2 separate regions of the Homo sapiens genome follow, and region 2 is linked to region 1. The links come from fine-mapping of genetic effects on gene expression. Tissue or cell type: fibroblasts. Region 1 holds a variant in brackets; the other region holds the start of a gene. All regions are shown on one strand. Distances are between the middles of the regions.

Evidence for each region. PIP is the estimated chance that this variant, and not a neighbour inherited with it, causes the effect.
Region 2: it holds the start of AKNA, and the variant in region 1 is fine-mapped to the expression of AKNA in fibroblasts (GTEx, PIP above 0.99).

The regions. Positions count from the first base shown.
Region 1 is chr9:114,415,607-114,420,606 of GRCh38, forward strand. The region is part of intron 7 of WHRN (whirlin); the gene reads right to left. Among named protein-coding and RNA genes, the nearest start is that of AKNA, 30 kb to the left of the region's middle. The variant T/C (reference allele first, on the strand shown) is at 3,033.
Region 2 is chr9:114,385,122-114,391,316 of GRCh38, forward strand. It overlaps AKNA (AT-hook transcription factor), which reads right to left and starts at 2,861. Exons shown (of 22, transcript NM_001317950.2): 1 at 2,739-2,861. LOC124902253 (a long non-coding RNA gene) reads left to right here and starts at 2,929. Exons shown (of 3, transcript XR_007061742.1): 1 at 2,929-3,132; 2 at 3,324-3,468; 3 at 5,722-6,195. RefSeq lists enhancers at 434-503, 524-573, 694-753, 1,524-1,673, 2,488-3,223 and 2 more.

The sequences.
Region 1 (5,000 bases):
CCCTTCAGCCCGCTTTATCAGAGTGTGAGTTATGGAGATGATTTGAGTTGAGGTAGCCTCCTCCACTGGACTTGATCAGCTTCAAGAGCACAGGCTCAGCCCCTGGCAGGCAGGAGATGCTCCACAAAGGCTGCTGCATAGAAGAAGGAGTGGCTGAACGCATGACTGAAGGAATACATGGAGTTCCTCTCTTACCCCGCTCATGGATGGAGAACGATTCTCTAAACCATCCAGGTTGGACCAAAGTCAGGATGCAGGAGGAAAAATAAGGCCCTTTGACAGTTTTCTACTTGTTTCTGAAAAAAAAAAGCTGGTTTGACAGTGAGGGGTCCCTGCAGCTGGAGGGGCCTGAGACAAGCCTGAGCTTCTCCCAGTTCACTGTGCTGCAGACAAGGAGGGAGGCACAGAGGCCACAGAAGGAGGCCAATGCAGAGAAGCACTGACAGCCACATCTACTGCCCCCTATTCACCTTCTTTTTGGGGGACAAGAGGAGGGAAGAAGGACAGTAAGGCCTTCAGGGGCAGGGATCCTGTCCCCAGCATCCTTGGGCAGGGGCTGGGAGCCTCCTTCCAGGCATATGACAGGGCTGGAGCACAAACTCTCTCAAATCCAGGTGGAAAAAGCCTGAGGTCAAGTCCAGGGCAAATCCCAGCTGCTGCCACCTGACCTCAAGGGCATTTGCTCCTTGAGTACAAGGCTGGCCTTGACCTCTCCAATCCCCTTTTCTCTACAATGCTCTGCAGTGCCTGAAATGCTTTGGCTATGTATCCTCACCCAAATCTCATGTTGAATTGTAATCCCCAGTGTTGGGGGAGGAATCTGGTGGGAGGTGATCGGATCATGCGAGCAGATTTCCCTTTTGCTGTTCTCGTGATAGTGAGTAAGTTCTCATGTGATCTGGTTGCTTAAAAGTGTACAGGACTTCCCCCTTCTCTTCCTCCTCCTCCAGCCATGTAAGATGTGCCTGCTTCCCCTTCAAACTTCCACCATAATTTTAAGTTTCCCGAGGCCTCCCCAGCCATGCTTCCTGTACGGCCTACAGAACTGTGGGTCAATTAAACCTCTTTTCTTCATAAATTTCCCAGTCTCAGGCAGTTTCTTACAGTAGTGTGAGAACGGATTAATACAGGGCCCTTTTCCAACCTTTGGAGTAGAAACAGAATGGGCTCCTCCACACTCCACACCTGCATATCCACTCCTGATCTCACTGAATCTTCAGAACAACCCAGACAGCTGGTCTTATCAGCCCACCGTACAGATGCAGAAATGGAGGCCCAGAAGACACAAGTCATCTGCCCAAGGTGACAAAGCTACTACTCTGGAAAGCAGAACCCAGCTGGTAGGATCCCAGAATCTGTGCAATTAAGCCCCTCTGCCACAGGCATGCTGGCACTAGATGAAGAATTCAAGAAATAACAGGCAGGCCTTTCTTCTTTCACTCTGCTCTCTCGGCCAACATCTTTATGGGGGAAATGATATTGTGTGAAGGCAGCATAAAATGCTCAGGGCTGGCTCTCTGTTAGACAAATGGAAAATCAACACAGTTTGTGAATGGGGGAAAGCTGGATCTGATTTCCTTTGATTGACTGTGTCTGCTTTGAGGGGAAATGGCTGCAGAATGAGCCACATTTAACCTGGGATCAATAACCACACAGCATGATCCGAGGAATTCAGGCTAAATGGAAACTGGCTCCATTTGGGGCCAGTGTCTGGGGCATCTCGGTCATCGATAGCCAGCCACCTGATGTCATCTTGCCCAACTGAACACTAGAACAAAGAACATTTTCCTACCATGTGGGAGGCGAATGTTTAGAAGGCCGCATAGTAGAAGATAATCCTGCAAGTGGCCGGGGAGTGTGTGCTTTCCTTCCAGTTTCTGTTCCACACTTTCTGGGCCTCCATTTTGCACCAGCTCTCGCTGTTTATTGGGGAAGGGAAACCCACGAAGAGGTTAAAGCAATGTGACAAGTGATTTAGCAGAGGTATGAGGAGTGTGTGAGCTCCATGCAGGAAGGGATTTTGGCCATGTTATGTTTTGGGTTGTTGTCCACATTTTAGGGTTATTACTCAGCATTACTGCAGCAAAAGCTTACTAATATGTGGTGTTGTAGACCACACAGCGGCACTTAGTGGTGAATAAAGGTGATTATTTCAAGCTCTTTCTCTCTCTGGAGGAATGCTGCAGTCCTTGTTCAAATATACACAGAAGAGGTGGGAATATAGAGTTGTCATTCCTTGCTGTGCCTCCCCCAAATATTTTCCAGCACCTCCTGATGCAGAGAAGACTCTCAGAACTGGAGGAGCCATGGGGGTCTTCCGTGGTTGTACAGATGGGGAGACTGAGGCCAAGAGTGAGTGAGGGGCTTTCTTGAGAGCACACTGCCTGGGAGAGACAGAGTGGAGTACCGGTGTGGGGGTCCAGACTCCTAGGATGGGTCCCAGTGCCCTGCGTACTCTGCAGGAGGGCTTCCACGTGGAGGAGGTTTGTCCTGTGGCCACACATGCAGCCAACATGGGTGTGCATGGCTAAGGGACTCCCACAGTCCCCACCGGCAGGAAGGGTGGTACCTCCATCAGGTCTATAAACCACAGCAGTCGCTCCTGAGGAAGGGTGAGCAAAAGGCAGTCGCTCCTGAGGAAGGGTGAGCAAAAGGGCCTCCAATCTGAGACCTGCTGTGTGTGGGGGTGGGGAGAAGAGGGGTTCCCAGGAGACAACAGGGCAGGGGCTGACCCAGCCACAGGAGGAGCTGGTGCCTGCAGAACCCATCATCACATCTTTAGCAACTCAGGCTGCATGACCTTCCCAGGCCCTTCGTGGCCCACAGACCTCTGGGTGTGGCTGGTTCCTAGGAATTAACCAGTTCACCTTGGTACAAACCCACTCTTACCTATTCTCAATAATCAGGGGGACCCTGTTAAATCGAAGTCAGACCACATCAGTTCCCTGCTCTTACCTGCCAAGGACTCCCATCTCACTCAGAGTCAAAGTCCTCAGCATGTCTGCCCCCGTACTCCCTCTGCTCTGGCCTTA[T/C]TGGCCGCCTGGAATTCTCTGACATTCTCTTACCTCAGGGCCTTTGCACATGCAGCTGCTTCTGTTGGAAATGCTCTTCTCCCAGATGTTGGCATGGCTCTCTCCCTCACCACCTGCAGGTCTTGACTCAAGGGTCACTCCCTAACCACCCCACCCCTCTCCAGTCTCCCTTGCCTGCTTTATTTTTCTCCCTAGCACTTGTCATCATTTAGCTTACTGTGTATTTCAGTTATCTATATCCTGTGTTATTGCCTGGCATTCCTGCTGTCTGTTCAACTCCATCGTGGAAAGGATTTCTTTGGTGTTCACCACTGTATCCCCAGAACCTCAAAATGTACATAGCACACAGTAAATGCTCAATATTTGTTAACAGAAAGGAAGGACAAGAAGAAGGAAGGGAGGAGAGAGGCAGATAGATGACGAAATGATGCTTAACAGGGAGCTGGTGAGATCCTTCAGGGAAGAATCACAGCCAGATGGCAGGGGTAACAACAGAGCTCAGAGTCAAGCAAGCCTGGGTTTGAATCCTGGCTCCATCACTCACTAGCCATGCAACCTTGGGCAAGTTGCTTCTCCTCTCTGAGCTTTGGTTTTCTTCTTTGTAAAATGGGGATCACAGCAGTACTCACAACTCCTAGCTCCTGGGATGGTCAAAGAAGATACGAATGGAAAGCACTACCACAGTGTCATAGAGAACATTCAACAAATCTCAGCCACTATTGTTATTAATAAAGGCCCAAATTATGGGCTAGGGTCTGTGCTGAGCACTAGGGATAGGGACTCAATGGTAACCGCACGTGCGATCGCTGCCCTCAAGCAGTCAGCAGTCACATTGGGTAACTGGGAAACCTGTACAGGCTTTTATAATAGGACATAATGAGGCAAGAGCTGTGACCAAAGGAAGCCCGGGGGCAAGAGGAGCCGTGGCCTGAAAGTCACTCCCCTTGGGAGGATCAGGGAAGTCTTCTTGGAAGAGGCAGCTTCTGAGCTGAGGGCTGAAGCACACATAGGAGAAAGTCAGGTCATATGAAGTGGGGAGAAGAACATTCCAGACAGAAAGCACATGGCATATGCAAAGGCCAAGGGGTCTCTCAACATCACGGGACAGAAATTACCATCCTCATTTTACAGATCCTAAAACTGAGCTCAGAGAGGTGAAACCACTTCCTGAGGTCTCACAGCAAGAAAGTGGCAGAGCTGGGATTTGAATGGACGGGATTCTCACTGCAGAGCTCAGGAAACCTGATGACCTGGAAAGACAGTCAGCACCAATAAGAACCCCTGGTCCCCACCAGGACTGGGTGCAGACATACGGGGGTGGCAGAAAAGGCCACAGCCCCCTACCCCGGCCCCTGGTTAAGGGACTCCCACAGTCCCCACCGGCAGGAAGGACGGTACCTCCATCAGGTCTATAAGCCACAGCAGCCGCTCCTGGGGAGGAAGGATGAGCAAAAGGCAAAAAGAAAAGATACATCAAATAAATATTTAGGGAATGGGTGGGTGCAGCAACAACCCCTTCCCCAAATGCACACGCGCACACACACATGCAAAATCCACACGTTCTCCAAACCCCTTTTCTATTTACCTTGAATGCTTTGGGCAGGAATAATGGAGAGAGGGGAGGGAAAGACCCCACTGCCATGACCAGCATCCCTTCATTCTGCCTGCCTCCTTGAAGGAAACAGGCGAGTCCCCACTGCTCTAAAGAAAAGACATTTGTCCCTGCTAAAGGGCCTTCAGGAGACAGTCATTTACTTTGGGGCGAGGCTGGGATCCGTATTCCCAGAGAGAGAAACAAGCTCAGAGAAGGGAAGTGAATTGTCTGAGGTCACACCTGCTAATGAAATGCAGAGCTTCAAGGAGGGCCCTGTTTGGAAGCCTCGGTTGGAGAAGGCCTGGACTTCAGGGAGGCCCAAGCCCTGTGATGTCAGAGAAGCTGAATCTGTGGAAGGGAGCTCTGGACTGTGC
Region 2 (6,195 bases), 30 kb before region 1:
GGGATTACAAGCATGAGCCACCCACCCAGCTGGTCAACTATATTTTAAATAGAAGCTCTAATCCTTGCTTCTCATACCTTCTGCAGGGCCTGTACCCTTCTTGGAAATCCCTGCCAGGGATCTTAAGCTTCAGTGTGCTTAAGAATCCTCTAAGCGTGCAGTTTCCTGAAACAACCTGCAGAGAGCCTGACTCAGTGGCCCTGGGATAGGGCCCAGGAATCTGCATTTTAAACCAGGGCCTCAGGCAGGGCCTGCCCTTTGAAGTTCACTAGGCCTCCTGGCTCCTGCTGTTATGGCAGGTGGAGAAGAGGCTACAATTTAGCTGTTGCTTTTCTGATTCTGAAGCCTCTGCTGAGGAAGGGGCCGGGGGAGGTGTGCGGTTTTTTGACTTTTTAAAGGGCTTTTTTTCTAGCTCTGCCACAGAGCAGCCTGCCCAATCACAGAGCCCTCTGGGTGCACAAAGAGGAACATCCTGTCTTCTGGGATGACTCAGTCGTGGCAGAAATCTCACTGTAACCAGGGGAAGGTGCACGTCAGAGGCAGCTGCAGTGACTGACTAGAGTTTCGCACTTGCCCCCAGGCGCCTAAACCAGTGAGCCTTTCCTGAGCCAGGCCTCTGCCTTCCATGCGAGCCATGGCCCTCCTCACCACAAAGCCCCAGAACTGGCCAGTCAGCTAGTCAGTCAACAAACACACGTTAGTGCCAACTACCTGCCAACCTCAGGCTGGGACGATGCTGTGATAGAGAAGCAGGCTGGGCATCAGGAGACAGGTGCTAGTCCTGGCTGCTGTTACTCACTGTGTATAGCTGGGCTTGCATTTTCCTCACTGTAAAATAGAGAAAGTACCACCTGCTCTTGATATCGCAAGGGGATATCACCCTGCTAGGGTGGGTTGGGAGGCAGGGTATGGGACTCAAAGAGCTTTGAAGTCCCTGATTGACTCAGCTTCTAAGGGCAACAGCCTCAGAACTGTTAACCTCTCTCCTCCTCCCTGAGGTCACATTTCAAAGTACAAAGATACATACTGAGCACCCAGTGGGCGCAAATTAACTTTTTAAAAAAGCCCTATGACTTCCTACTATATACCAGGCGCTACGTAAGATGCAAAGAATATAGAAAAGAGTAAAAGTGTTCCAAGATTTTAAACGGTGGGGGGTAGTACAATACAGAAGTGTTACCAAAGGAAGCTTTAAGGTGGGCTTGAGAAACAATGAGGATTTGGGGGAGAAGACTGGGGAGGGCATTCCAGGCAGCGGGAACAGCACGGAGGCAAAGGCACGTAGGTCTGAAAGTATGGCCTGACCTTGAAGGAGAGCTATGGGCAGGTGTCCCTGCATGCCAGATAAAGGCAGAGTTGTTCCAGCCAGCCCTCGTTAGGGCAGCAGGGCTGCTCCTAAAAGGCAGTGAGTGGGGTTTGGTGAAGACTCCAGCAGTGTGAGCTGGGGAGGGCTATGGAGTTCAGGGTCCCCGCCATCCCTGGAGAAACTGGCCCCACAAGGAAGTAGCAGCCACTGCACCCTCCTTCTGCACATCTCCTTCTTACACCCAAGCCGCCACTGCCCCTGCTCTCTCAAGGGTCTAACAGACCCCTGAGGTGTCTATCTTCAGTTCCTGGGTGGGATGGACTCTTCTTCCCCACCACCCACACAGGGCTTCTCCGCCCGCTCAGTCATTCCACAGCCAGGGACCCTTCCCTTTATGGCTCAATCCCTCAGAACTGCCCAGACGCCCAGGCTCTCCTTTGCCAGCACAGCTACGCAGCCCGCACAGCCTCCCCGTGCCCTCTGCAGCCCCTTCCCATCCAGCCAGAGCTGTCCAGGGTGCCACCCTGCTTCTACCCCCACCCACACCCTGACACCTCCCAGATGAAGACACTGAGGCACAGAGACATGGCCTGCTCTCACAAGACCTCACAGCCAGGAAGCGCAGACAGAGGATTCAAAGCTGGGGTACCGCAACTCTGAAACCAAGGCTGTCAGATGTGTCAGGGAGATGGGGAAGGAAGACCACCCCCCAAATCAGTAACCAGACCTTCCAAAAAGGCTCAACCATACCCCCACCCACCTGCTGGCAGGGCACAGACTTGCTGTTCTCAAGGGGTTCCCACCAGCTGTGTGGACTCTAGTCCCACAAGGAAGCACCAGCCACTCCCTCTCTGTGTCCTCCCTGCCCCCAGCCCGCTCCAGCAGCAGAGGCCGAGGAGAAAGAGAAACGGTGCCCTGGCTGTTGCCAGCTCTGGTCTTGCCATCCTCAAGAGCTGAGCTGGGTCTGCTGGTCCTCGGACTGTCCTTGGCTCCTCTCCTTGCTCTTACGCAGCTGGCATAAGGGGCCACTCCTTCAATAGGGACCACCCCCCGGCGCCGTCGCTGCCTCCTGGCCTGCTGCCCATGCCTGCATCGTCTCTGAGACCCCTTAGCAACCAAGGACACTAACTCTCCAGGTGCAGACGACGACACCCCAGGCACAGAGATGGACCCGCCTACCCAAGTTCACAAGAGATCAGAATCAGAGCTAGGACTGGAATCTAGCATCCTGAGGCTTGACGAAATCCTCCTTAAATCCACCCTTGCCCTGGAGGCCGGGATCCCCTAAGCCAAGAGAAAAGCGGTGCAGCTCCAGCAGCTGCAACTTCCTGGCTGGGCTGGTCCGGCTGCCTGGACTGTCCCGGAGAGTCTGTGACTGGCCCGTCCAGAAGGAAAGCGGCCTCCCGGGCCCTCCTCCGTTCCAATCCCTTACCTCTCTCGGGCTCCACCACCGTCCTGCCGACCCAGTTTCAGGGGACCTGCCTGTGAATTCTTTGTTCCAAACCCAGGGAGCCCCCTGTCTCCATTGCGCCCTGGCCCACCTCCAGGCCGTTCTGCCAGCCCAAGCTGCTGCTCACAGACCAGCATCGCTCCCCACCTCTCCCCGCCCCTGCCGTGGTTGAGGCCGCCTCGCCTCGGCAGGAAGCGCCCAGCCTGATTTCCTACAAGTGTTTGTCAGAAGGAGGGGGTTTGTCTGCGTGCAGAGCAAGAGCTGGAGGAGCTTAACCCCTTGCAAGCCCTCCGCAGTCAGCGCTGCCCAGGAAAGGACTCAGGGAACAAACTCCTGACGTCCTGGGCTTGGGATCATCTCAGCCCAGGCCCTGCAGGTACAGATGGGGAGACTAAAGCACAGAGAAGGTCAGAGGCTTGGCCAAGGTCACACAGCATGCTGTAGCTCCTACCCTCTAGGCCCTCTTCAACCACGGCCTGACCTTAGCCGAGGCTCCTTCCCTCACTAGGCCTCAGGGCCCATGTGCACGGTGAGAGCTCAGACTCAACACCACTCCTGCCCTTCCAGCTCTGACTCTGCCAATGTGCAACCTGAATCTCAGGGAGACCGTGGTGATTCCTGCCATCTCAACCCACCGTCCTCACCCCGAGGTGGTCCTGCAGCCAGAGTGGGATGTTCGGGGCAGCATGGAGGTGTGAACCTGGCGGATCAGGTAAACTTTCCCTTGTTGTAAGAACCCTCCAAGGGTTCACCAGATGTTGGGAACAGATCGATCCTGATGGTCAGTCGAGCTATCTTTCCTCAAGCCCCACCATCCCATTCCTTCATTCGTAGGTACTCACTGAGCTCCTACTGTGTGGCGGGTGCTTTTAAATCACCTGGGAATATGGCAGGGCCGAAGACAGGCCAGTCCCCTGCTCTCCACTCTAGCAGAGACATGGACAATAAGCAAGCACATGTATAATTTCAAGGAGAGAGCTGTGAACAATGAGACTGGGTGACGATCCGTGTCCCAGGCCAGGTGGCACTGAAGCCTGGGGCTCACCCCAGGCCAACAGAGTCAGTCTCTGGGCATCAGACATTTTAAGTGTCCCAGGTGACTGGCCCTGGTAGAGAACACATGGGGCCAAGAGTAATGGGTTGGAGGAGAAGGGTTATAGGACGGTCAGGAAGGTCTCTATGAGGAGGTGACATTCAAATAAGGCACTGGAAGGAAGAGGGGTCAAAAGCAAGCCACAAGAAGGTTTGGGGCAGAGTGTTCTGGGAGGGCAAGTGGAAAGGCCAAGGTGGGGGAGCCAGCGGGCTTTCCCTGAGAACAGCAAGGCCTGTGTACCCGGGGCAGAGCGAGTCAAGCGGGAGAAGCAGGAGCTTCACAGAAAAGCGGGCACAGGAGCACAAGAGGCTCCCAACACTGGCCCCACCCAGGACCCAGAGACTCTGAGTCAGGAAACAAAAAGAAAGAGGAAAAAAAACAGGCCTCTGTATTGTCCAAAAAGCCCTCCAGGTAATTCTGATAAGCAGCCAGATTTGGGAACCACCCATGTAGGAGAGAAAAAAATCTCAGAGTCACTGTGGACCTGGGTTCAAATCCCAGCCCCATCTCCTGCTGGCCCTGACCTTTGAGGCTTCACGTCTCTAAGCCTCAGTTTCTTCATCTGTAAAACAGGGATAAGAAGAGTAGCCACCCCACAGGGGCTGCTATAAAGATTCAATGACATGATGCCTACCAAGGGTAGAGCGGGGGAGCCAGAACACAGTCATGTATTGAGCTATTTTATTATTGCTACTACAACTATTGCTGCTACTTAGGTATAAGTCTCTGGTCTCCTCTAAAGGCTAGATCTTAATATCTTTCCTGAAGCCTGGCACACTGTTTATGGCTGATGAATGTGTTCTGTGAATGAATGAATGAATGAATGAGTGGACGTTCCCAAGGTCAGCTTGTGAATATCTGGCGTAGCCAGGGCTAGAACCAGGAGCCCTCATCCTGGTAATCGCCCACCCCTCTATCCCCTTTCCTGCCTTTTACCCACATCTGGGTGGCAGGGCTCTCCCTGTAGCCCCCAGCCCCACATGGAGCAGAGCCAAACCCTAATGAGGCCCCTCCCTATCAGCTCTGGAGGCCATGTGTGCCATTGTGCAAGGGGCGGGCTCCCCTGACACCCTGTCACTCACTCACCCTCCCTCCCTGGTCATTAACCCAGGCAGCATTAACCCAGGTGGCTGCCATTGCTGGGCATAGCCTGTGGCCCCTGGATAACCCCAAACCCATCTCAGGGGCAGCCACCTAACACCAAGGAGAACCGCCTGCAGTGCAGTCTGTTCCATTTCCTTGCACCCCCAAGCATGACCAACCCTCCTCCCTGCCTTTGCTCATGCACTGCCCCCTCTTGGATCACTGTCCCCACCCACAGGCCAAATTCTACCAAACCGAAGCAGCATGTCTAAGACTGAGCTCCTAGTATTGCCACCCTCCAAACCCACCCCTCCTTAGTTTGGCCCATCTTTCACCCAGGTACACACTGAGAATCAACTGTGACCCTGGACACTTCCTTTTCCCTTACATCCCATAACCAATCCATCGTCAACTCCCAGTGATTTCATTTCCTAAATTTCACCAGAATCTGTCCCCGTTTCTGCATCCCCACGTGGGTCCCTGGATCGGCCTTGCCTGGAAAGCTCTAGGGTCCACTAATCTGTTCCCCACACTGCACCGATGTGGTCTTCCAAGATAAAAGTTCCAAACAAGACCCTTCCATGCTTCAGACGCACAGCTAGCTACTATGGCTCTGAGAAAGAAGATGAAACTCCACAAGCTGGCCGCTGCTGCAGCCTCTTCTCCCACCACCCTCTCTGCCCTTGCTCAGCATGCTCCTGCCATACAGGCCTCCTTGCTTTTCCTGGGACAGATGTGTCCTGCTCCTCCCCTCACCCAGTCCCACTTCTTTTCCCTGTTAACTTCTAGGCAACCTCCAGATGTCAGCTCCAGCGTGCCCTCCTTGGGGACTCCCCATTTGGAACTATATTTCATATGTGATTATTTGATTAACATCTGTCTCTTCACTCAGTTGGGAGCTCTGTGAGGCTCTCATCATCATATCCCCAGGACCCAGCACACAGGCCCTGATATACAATAGAAATACAATAAATATATCCTGGATGATCCACTCAACCTAGCTACTTGCCCAAGCCTGACTCATAGCCCTCATAACAACCCAATGAGGCTGATGTGACAACCCCATTTCACAGTTGGGTAAACAGAGGCCCCTAGAGCCCAAGCAGCTTGCCCAAGGTCACAAAGGTGATGAGCTGCAGTAGAGTTTCAAACACACAAAGACCTGGCTTCTAATAACCAAGCTTGGTGCTCACAACATTGCAGCCCGCAGAGATAATTAATACCTGTGCACAATAAAATCGAGAGTGGAGCTTCTTACCAACT